Regions from separate parts of the Homo sapiens genome. Here region 2 is linked to region 1. A link means that fine-mapping ties the variant in region 1 to the expression of a gene that starts in the linked region. Tissue or cell type: atrial appendage. Region 1 holds a variant in brackets; the other region holds the start of a gene. All regions are shown on one strand. Distances are from middle to middle.

Region 1 (5,133 bases):
AAGTATTTGGTTGACAATCATTTAATTTATCTATGAAGATTTTGTGAAGCCTGCATAGAGGGTGGGTCTCTCCAGAAAGGGTTAAAGTGGTCACAAGGTCCTATCAACCCAGCACCCCTTGAACTAGGTATCTTGGCTTGGGATCTTGTAGGTAATACGAATTTGAATCCCAGATCTATCTGAGGGAAAGCCTTTATTACTAATGTCCAATGAAGCCTTCCCCACCACCCCCCCGCATCTAGAGCCTAGGTGGATCATTTTCTAGTACGTGCCTTCATCAAGATTATAACCCTTTCAGGTTCCCAGCTGGATGTGGAGTGTCACTCCCAGCTACTCACATTGCATGGGCCTAGGTCTTGTCTCCTGTCCTTCATGTCGCTCTTAAGTATCTTGACAGCAAGGTCCACTAATGCCCACAGTGCTCTTACAGTTTTGCTTTTGTTTACCCCTCTGCTTGCACAGTTTATTTTTCAACTTGTCCATGAGGAATTTCCCTTCCATTTTTGTGAGCTTAGATCTATATTTAAAAGGATATTTCTATTAAGGAAAATCATGTGACTAGCCAATGGAGTAAGAAAGTCAGTGATGCGTGAAGCTTGCAAGTCCTGCTCTTAAAGAAAAGGAGAATTCCGAGTTCCCTCTGCTAACTCTTTTCCATCCTTCCCACTAGCTGGAATGCCGATAGGGTAGGGAGCCATTTTGATGAGACCAACAGACCAATAATGAGAACACTCTAGGGATATCACAGCAACAAGGCAGAAGGAGCCTGGGCTCCTGACAGCTTCACAGAGCAGAGCTGCAGCTCCAGTTTTGGCTTTTGGACTAGAAATAAATTTCTGATTGTTTAACCACTGTTACTGAAAGTCACTGTCATACTAGTTAATACTATATAATAATATAGCAGGTTTTTAATATGGAAAAGTTAAGAAAGAACATAAGTATAACCAGAGATGATTATGGTGTAGTGAGGAGGTGTCCAGAAAGAAGATTTTAGGGATCTTCAAGCTGTCCTCTGGCTGTTCCACAGTTTTTTTTCAAGGGCTAGCCTTGCTGTTTGCAGAAATGTTTGTCTAACAGAATGCACTAGTGTGAATTTGTGATCCTTTATATATTTGCATTTGCAGAGTTTATACTCATAGGCTCTCTATTTTTCCTTAGCAAATATCCACATTTAATTAGCTTCCCCAGAGGGAATTATGTAGTCATAATTACTGCCTCATATTCTGAAGAGGAAGGTGTGGGTGCCTGAAAGGCATGACATTAAAATGTTTTCTCCAGAAGGTGTACTTTTTTCATCTAAAGTAAAACTCTTTCCAAAAGATACGTTTGCTATTAAGTATCAGCACTTCTTTAAATAATATAAATTAAAGACTGGTAGAAAGAAATATAAACAATTACGCGTGCCCATTCCGAGAACCATCCTAGTTTACTCTTATGCAGCACTGGCTAATCTAGCTTTTGTATCTTCACAGAATTAAGGAAATGGAGATGAGTTGTAATAAATACAGTGACTCATGACATTCATTTATCAATAAATTGGTTTTTATTCAGCAATAACAAGTTACTAAATGAGCTAGGTTCTGAGGAGAGAGCAAAACTTTTTAAGACACAATCTCTGTTTTGAGATATTTATAGTATTTCTATACTATACACAATCTCTGTTTTGAGAAATACTATACACAATCTCTGTTTTGAGATATTTTAGTTACAATATGTAACTAAAACATGATCTTAAATAAATACAACATAGATAAAAAATGACAAATGTCAGAAAGGAATGGATGAGTGCTCTGTGAGTTCACTGCTCAGCGTTGCCCTATCCCTCTGATTATAACAGCACTTGCTTCTTGGTATAATTTTTAGCCAGATCTAAGGTCTTCAGGGTCCTTAGATCTTAGATCTTCAGGATACTTAGCGCTTGGTTCAGCTCTCTTGAATGTCTTCCCTTTTCCTAACACTGAAAAGAAAAAGCCTTTCTTTTATTTCAAAAACAACAACACAAAGTTGGAACAGCTTAAACCATCACTTGTGGTGGCTTTCGAAATGAATAAGCCATGAATACTGCTTCTGAGTTATCATAACCACTAGGAGCTACAAACAAACAAAAACCTGAATCAATAGTTAACGTCACAGTGAAATAACGTCTCGTTTCTTCTTTCTAGAGGGAACTGCACAAGACACTTCATTCTCTTTAATCTGCTCTACCC[C/T]GTCATATACCATTGTTTATGATGCTAACAATTATGATGGTGCAATAGCACACTCAGTGACTCATCAGCTCCCGCCTTCCAGAGGCACTCAGCTCTCACATACGCGGTGAGTAATGGCTCATAGAGACGTTGCTTAATATCTGTAATCAGTTTTAGTCTGATGCAATTCTCAAAATGCATCCTTCTTTTCCAATAAATGATAAATTATAAGGCTATTGTCTGGCAAAGAGAGTCATTTTTCCCAGCCAAAGATTTATTTCCCAACCAAGCTGCTTTTGAATCCTTGAATGTCACTTTTAGCTGTTTCCAATCCTCTAAACAAGTATCTGCCAATCACCTGGACGTGTGAGAGGCAACGCTAGGGTATATAGTTATTTAGTGTGAAATGTTGCCATCAGAATTGAAGAGACGGTCTGTCTAAATCTGAAGGGGTGGCAAGAAGGAATTGAGGAGGCTATGGAAGGGGGGAAAAAAGGAATGAGTAGGAAAAATGTCATACAGGCACAATGAGGCAGAAAATTTCATATGACTTCATCAATCTGGGCTAACCAACAAAAAATTATGGTTTTTTAAAATGAGGCTAAAGTCTTTGAATTATCCTTGGAAAAGAATTTCCTAAGTAAAGAAAAACTGTAAATGAGATTGCAAAGAGGCTCTTTAATCTGCACCTAAAAATTCTTTACATCTTCTAGTGGTGTCTGTTTGCAAAAGCAAAGATATTTCTTGCTTTCTTGTCCGCCAAAGCAGCCCTCTCCAGCAAGTCTCACTTGACAATTTTCCATTAACCACCATTTTTTGTCACTGCACGATATAATAGAATAGAATTTAAAGATTGCATAATTCGGGTTTCTCACTACAGAATTATTTTGGATTAGCTATCTGTTAGCTCATTTAGGATGAATATGTTAATAATTATTATTTTGTAGCTCTACAATATTACTTTGGTCAGCACCTTGCCGATGAAGAGTAACAATATAGGTAGTAAAAGGACCTCAGAATATTTACAGAATTAGGCAGGGTGTTTTTGGTCACAGATGGATGCCTGGACTTCAGTGTCACTTCCATTGCTCAAGGTTCCATGAGCCCAACACAGTCATAGGTTTGATGGGGCACTGGAAATTATCACCTCACTTGATGTTCAGTTTTATCATCTTTTCATTTTCTTACTACCTTCTAGCCACTATTTTATAATGATTTTCAAAGCTTTGTCTTTCTCTACCTCTTCCATTTAGTCATTTCCCACAAGATCCATTTCCCTTCCTGTTCTACATTTTCTTCCCGGTGATAGCACCACTTCCATCGTTGCAGAGGGCCAGACTTTTTAATCACTCTGCTGATGGCTGTTAAGTCTATACTTCCTGACTTAACCTGGCTTCTGAGCCTCAGCTATATTTCCAACTGGAAGTTTCTACCTGCATGTGTCCCACAGGCACCCAAAACTTGGTGTAATTGAACTAAACACATCGGCTCCTTCTGCCCTTAAACTCGTTCCTCCTTTGTTCCTTGAGTGACACCATCAGACGCAGTTGCTTCAGCTAAAGACTCCCCCCATTTCTTACCATCTGATTGTTAAGTCAGATCAATTTTATCTTCAAAGTATCTCCAAGGTGTCTCTCCAGTGTACCATTCTCATAATTTGAACTAGAAACTCCTTACATAGCTGTCAATTCTCCTTACAACCTGATCCCAACTAATCATTCCGGTCTTATAGCTCACCCATTACTCTACCACACACCTCAATGCTATGTAATTATGTGACTATGGAACCCTTCTCATGTTTGTTAATCTCTCAATACCTCAACTTTCTCCTCTGTAAAATAGGGAGAATAATAAGCCCTACCCTAGAAATTTGTCTTGAGAATTACAGGAGACAATAGATGTAAAGTATTCAGTATAGTACCTGGCCCAACCAAAGCATTATATGTGTAATCTCCTCTTCTTTCTCCCCTTTTTGCCCTCTTCTTTCTCCTCCTTCTTCTTCCAAGTGTATAGTATGTAATCTGTCAAGAATTTATTTTACTTATTTAATTATTATTTTATTATTTATTTATTAAAATCTTTATTTTGGCATAAACTAAAATGAAAACATTATCTACATAAAACTTGACCCTTTAACCATATCACATTCTATGATCTAAGTCTCCGGTTTTCCCCAAACAGCAGTAACTATACTACAAAATTTATAATTATAACTACTTTTAGGGAAATAGTGGTGAACAAACCAGCCAACAGATGTGTAAGCAGAAAAACCTTCCTCCCTATCCTCCCCACTACCACTCTAGAAGATTTCCAAACAGCCCAGTAGAGTTGCCACTTTGTCACATAGAACCAGAAAAGGCCAGCAGGGTCAGGATACCAATACCTCATGGACATTAAAATATCACTGGAAATGGAACAGAATAGAAAAGATTTTGTATTTAACAAGATTCCTTTCAGGGAGAGTTAATGGTAGTAGTGGTAGCAGAGGCAAAGGTAGGGGTAAAGTGTGGGGTCCCCAAAGCACATGCTTGAGTAACAATAAATGCTTGCCATGTCATCTTCTAAGATTTGTAGGTAGATGGGCTTTGTAGGGTAAGACTTTGGGTTTTCTGAATGGCAAATGTGATTTCGTGGCTGAAGCTGAATTGTTGCAGACTAATGCTTTTCAAACTTCTGTACACATCAGCATCTCCCAGAGGGTTTGTTAACACATAGTGCTGGGCCTCCCTCCAGAGTTTCTGATCCAGCAGCTCTGGGATGAGGCCCAGGAATCTGAATTTCTAGGGGCTTCTCAGATGAGGATGAAGTTGTCGATGTGGAGAACATACTTTGAAAACCATTGAGAAGATGCCGATCCTGCCAATGCCAGCAGTCCTACTCTGCTGCTTCTCCACCCTAAACATCGTATTTTTTAAAGAGAATCAGTTTGATGAATGACATGTTATTA
Region 2 (4,529 bases), 61 kb before region 1:
TAAGTAAATAAGTAAGCAAGTAAATGAATTTTTAAAAATGTAATTTGTTCTAAGGGATAAGAACATTTGCTCACATTTCCAAGTAATTGGACATCACCAGACTACTTAATTCCACACATTTTCCTATTCTCACCCTTTATATATAAAAATAATTATTAATTATTTGTGAAGTTAAGGAATAATTCAGAGCCCTTGTCTTTCTAACTGTTTGGAACAGGTGTGTTGTAGAGCATACTATTTTTATAGTAGTAATTTTTTGATAATTTTAAATAATATTGATTTTCATATCTGATTCTAAAAGTAATATATATTGTTTTGGAAGATTTGGAAAAATTTAAAAATTGAAGAAGAAAATAAGATTACTCATACAAGTTGAGCATCCCAAATCTAAAAGCCCAAAATCTGAAAAGCTCCAAATCCAAAACTTTTTTAGTGCCCACAAGATGCTTAAAGGATATGTTCATTGGAGCATATTGGATTTTGGATTTTTGAATTTGGGAGGCTCAACTGGCAAAGATAATGTAAATTTTCCAGAATCAAAAAAAAAAAATCTGGAATTCAAAACACTTCTGGTCCCAAGCATTTTGGATAAGGCATACTCAACTTGCATCTAACTATCCATAATTATTGTTAGCATTTGGTTGATTTCCTTTTATTTGTTTATTTATTTATATGTTTTTTTGAGACAGAGTCTCACTCTATCATCCAGGCTGGAGCACAGTGGTGCGACTATAGCTCACCGCAGTCTTGAACTCCTGGGCTCAAGCCATCCTCCCACCTCAGCCTCCTGAGTAGCTGGGACTACAGGTACACACCCCACACCCAATTATTTTTTAAATTGTTAGTAGAGATAAGATCTCCCTATGTTCCCTGGGCTGGTCTCAAACTCCTGGGCTCAAGTTATCCTGCACCTCAGGCTCCCAAAGTGCTGGGATTACAGGTATGAGGCACCATGCTGAGCTTCACTTTCCTTTTATTTATTTATTTTTTTTTTCTGTGTACATTGTGTGTAATTTTAGAAAAGGGAGATCATAATTTATACATTTTGTGCACTTTCTCAGATCATTAAATATTCCTTAAAAATATGATTTTTAGTGGCAGTGTAGTATGCCTTTACGTCATTCTCCACTTCTTGCAATTTAGATGTGCAATTTTATAGCATTGTACTATAAAACTATTAAACTTGTCATGTTTCCACTTGCCTGAGAAAGATACAGAATAATAGAGTCACATTTGCTATGATTAAGTCTCCTTTCCTGGTGATTTAGGGTTTAGAGTCTGAAGTGTGTATAATAATATGAATTTAACAATCCAGCAAGAATAGACATATTGGAATAGGTTGCCAAATCACAAAGTGCAAACCCAGAGTATTTTCCCCTCTGCTTACTCCTTTGTCTTTGTTAGCAGTGTGAATTACTGAATGATAGAAAGTAAGACCACAGCAAATCAAACATAGTAACAATCTGCTAAACGTAGATTATTATTAATACCTGCACGTATATTAACTGAAGAAAATAAACTGTAATAGAGGCTGTATGGCCTTTAGAACTAGAAAGACTTGAGTTTCTTTCCTTCTGTAAGCCTCAGCCCTCTCATCCTTAAGACAGCAGTTACAATGCCTACCTCACTGGGTGTTTGATTCACTGAAATCGTGAATATAGAATGCTCTCACTTTATGCCAGTTTCTTCTCTCTCTACCCGACCTTCACGCATGTTCATGCACACAAACACATGCACACTCATAGGTTCATAAACATACACATGCTTAAGGAGTATTGTAATACATGTGGAGACTGATTTGAGTTCACACATCGAAGGTTCCATTCTTCCAGAAGAGAAATTTATTAGGAAAACATTAGTCAACATCTCTGTGTGTACTGTTTCTGCTATATAAATGTCTAAATTAAACTGTAAATATTTTAGTCAGTACTGCTTTCCTTTAATGTGCACTCCAGAAACCATACCAACCAAGATATACTCCTGTAATATTCTCTGTGATTGACACCTACGCTCTATCCTGTACTCAAATCATTTCAATATCCCTCCTCCCATTTTCCAGATCTGTAGAACAGAGAATAAATATGCTTCAAGCTGGAAAGATTTCTTCTCTCCTCAAATAGCATAAAGAAATGACTGATGCTCTTTCTTATGGCAACAATTCATGTGTGCTTTTCTGGGGCTACTGCTGAATAAATTTATCTTACCTATTCAAGTGGCCTATACCTGATAAAATTTGATTAAAATACTCATGGAATTCAGGGAGAGAAACATCTACAAAATAATATATCTGAAACAAAAAGACAGATTTGCCTAAAAAGAACTTACCCTATACTGTAGTTCCCCCACTTTTAAAAGCTGCCATTCCTATTCAGTGTAGTTTTCTTACGCGGACTCTGTTTATATGCTGGTGGTGGTGGTGGAAGTCTGTTGATAAGCTGATATCCAAGCAACATCATGTGATGAAACAAAGAGCTGGGGAAATCTGGCTGCATGCCTTTCTTCACTTCTGGGTAACATTCAGCTACACAGTTTGATATTTTTTCTTCCACATTTTGTGTCTAATCAAGTGTCATCTTCTAAATCTACCATATCTGTGTTACATGCAGATATCGGGGGTAACATGCATAGAGGCAGAGATTCTAAATATTAAAGGTCAACAAATCCATCAGGGCAATGGGCCATGACATAAATATTTCCAAAATTTGGAGTCAGTAGTCCCCTTCCTCATTGCTCAGGATGATGAAGGAAGAGTTCCTGAATATAGAGGTATGGGCATGAATTTGCCTGTGGTAACCTATGAAATTATTCCATAGTTTAAGCTAAGTTCCCTTTCATTTTGTGGGGGAATAAGATATTCTCCATATTTTATCTTAATTAGAGGCTACATATGATGATAATTAACCTGTGGCGTAAGACTAGAGCCCACACTGACCTCATCCTTTCTTCTGTGATAGCATTATTCTACTGGCTTCCTTTCTTTCTCAAGTGTCCTCCTTCTGAATGCCAGCTTATCTGCAAAGATGAAGAGTTCCTAAAGAAAAGGGAAGAAGAAATATCAAAAGAAAATACATTCAAAATTCTTAGGAGACTAAGGGGAAGAAAAAAGCAGGGAGATGAGAGTGATGAATCATATGCCTTAAAGAAGAAAGGGCTCAACAGATGCAAAAGTCTTGCATTTTTTCCCCAGTAATTTGAATGCAGACCTCCTGGGAAATAAGCACAGCACAAACAAGTGTCTTTAAATGCCAGTAAATAACATAAAATCTTTCACTGGATCTGAGAGGTTGATGATTCTTTACCAAGAGATAAAGAACAGTGGTGTGCAGAGTTGACATTGTCAATCGAGTCTTCCTCAAACGTTTTTCCAGGATATGATGAAATTCATTCTGGGTGCACTGCATCTGCTGATGTTGCACACACATGCTGAAATTCCTACCAGCTTGCCTTGGACGCTACTCAATCAGGAGAACAGTAACAGATCTGTGTTTGACAGAGGGCATTTAATGTAAGGAATCTGTTATGAAAATATAGAAATGGGTTAGAGGAGTAAAACAAGAAGGGTTAGGTTATCCAAGGACTGGCAATTGCACTAAACTGTGATTGCACATAGAGCTGGAGGACAATAGGGAAAATGATTTTACCCACAGCCCATGGACACTGTGCCATAGAGGCTGCTTCCTTTGGAGAACTGCTGCCTGAGCAGCGCCTCAGGAACCTGTGCTCACCAGGCACCCTTGCTTCTATGTTCTTGCCCAAACTGCTAATCTTGCTGTTGCTGTCACCACTGTTGCTGTCCATGTGGCTGCTGCTGCTGGCACTGCCACAGGTGCAAGCAGAAAGTATTTTTAAAAAATGGCTTCTTCCCTCCAGCCTTCATTCATGTCCTGCCCTCCATTGGATGCCAGCTAGCAAGGGATTTTGGGAAATGTATTTTGCAGTCTTCCTACTACTCTGATAAACAGAAGGGTATAGAAGAATCAACATGAGGCCGACAGATGGTGGACACTCTCTAACACAAACACAAATCTAAGAGGTACCTTTGGGACCTATGAAGTCAGGCAGGAGGATGAAGGACTTAGACATACAGTCAATGTTTACCTAACATCACTGAAAGTTGTCAATTTATAAGAAAAGAGGAAATAAGATAAAACTAGCTATGTAGATGGTATCAAAGAATGAGATCTAAATTTGTAGACATATTTTAAAATATAAGAATGAGGGAGTAATGCATATCCTAAGTTTGGGACAAAAAATGTTTTCCCAAAGACTAGTTTAACATTTCAAAAAGGATTTAAACTGATTACAAAAAAAATGGGAAAGAAACACCCATAATCTAATTACTATAGGGAATACAATGTCAACTATTAGTAGAAAAGTTGTACTATTTCACAGTTAAAATATTGGTACAGCAATGAGACTCACTGCTTAAGACATTGGCTGTTTAGAAGGTGGGTGATAAAGTGTTTTCATGGAATATCAGGGTAAATGTGACCTCATGAGTGATACCAAGTGAGGAAGAGGGACTCCTG

Alleles and levels. Alleles are on the strand shown, and positions count from the first base shown. SD is a standard deviation of normalised expression in the study named.
In carriers of allele C in region 1, the expression in atrial appendage of the gene that starts at base 2,406 in region 2 tends to be lower than with T alone (small effect, 0.35 SD a copy in GTEx).

What was found. PIP is the estimated chance that this variant, and not a neighbour inherited with it, causes the effect.
Region 2: FAM216B starts here. The variant in region 1 is the best candidate, but not a certain one, in a credible set for the expression of FAM216B in atrial appendage (GTEx, PIP 0.81).

Annotation. Positions count from the first base shown.
Region 1 is chr13:42,717,731-42,722,863 of GRCh38, reverse strand. LOC124903164 reads left to right here. Exons shown (of 3, transcript XM_047430822.1): 2 at 2,163-2,313. Among named protein-coding and RNA genes, the nearest start is that of FAM216B, 61 kb to the left of the region's middle. RefSeq lists an enhancer at 2,183-2,232. The variant C/T (reference allele first, on the strand shown) is at 2,208.
Region 2 is chr13:42,779,461-42,783,989 of GRCh38, reverse strand. It overlaps FAM216B (family with sequence similarity 216 member B), which reads right to left and starts at 2,406. Exons shown (of 4, transcript NM_001318932.2): 1 at 2,326-2,406.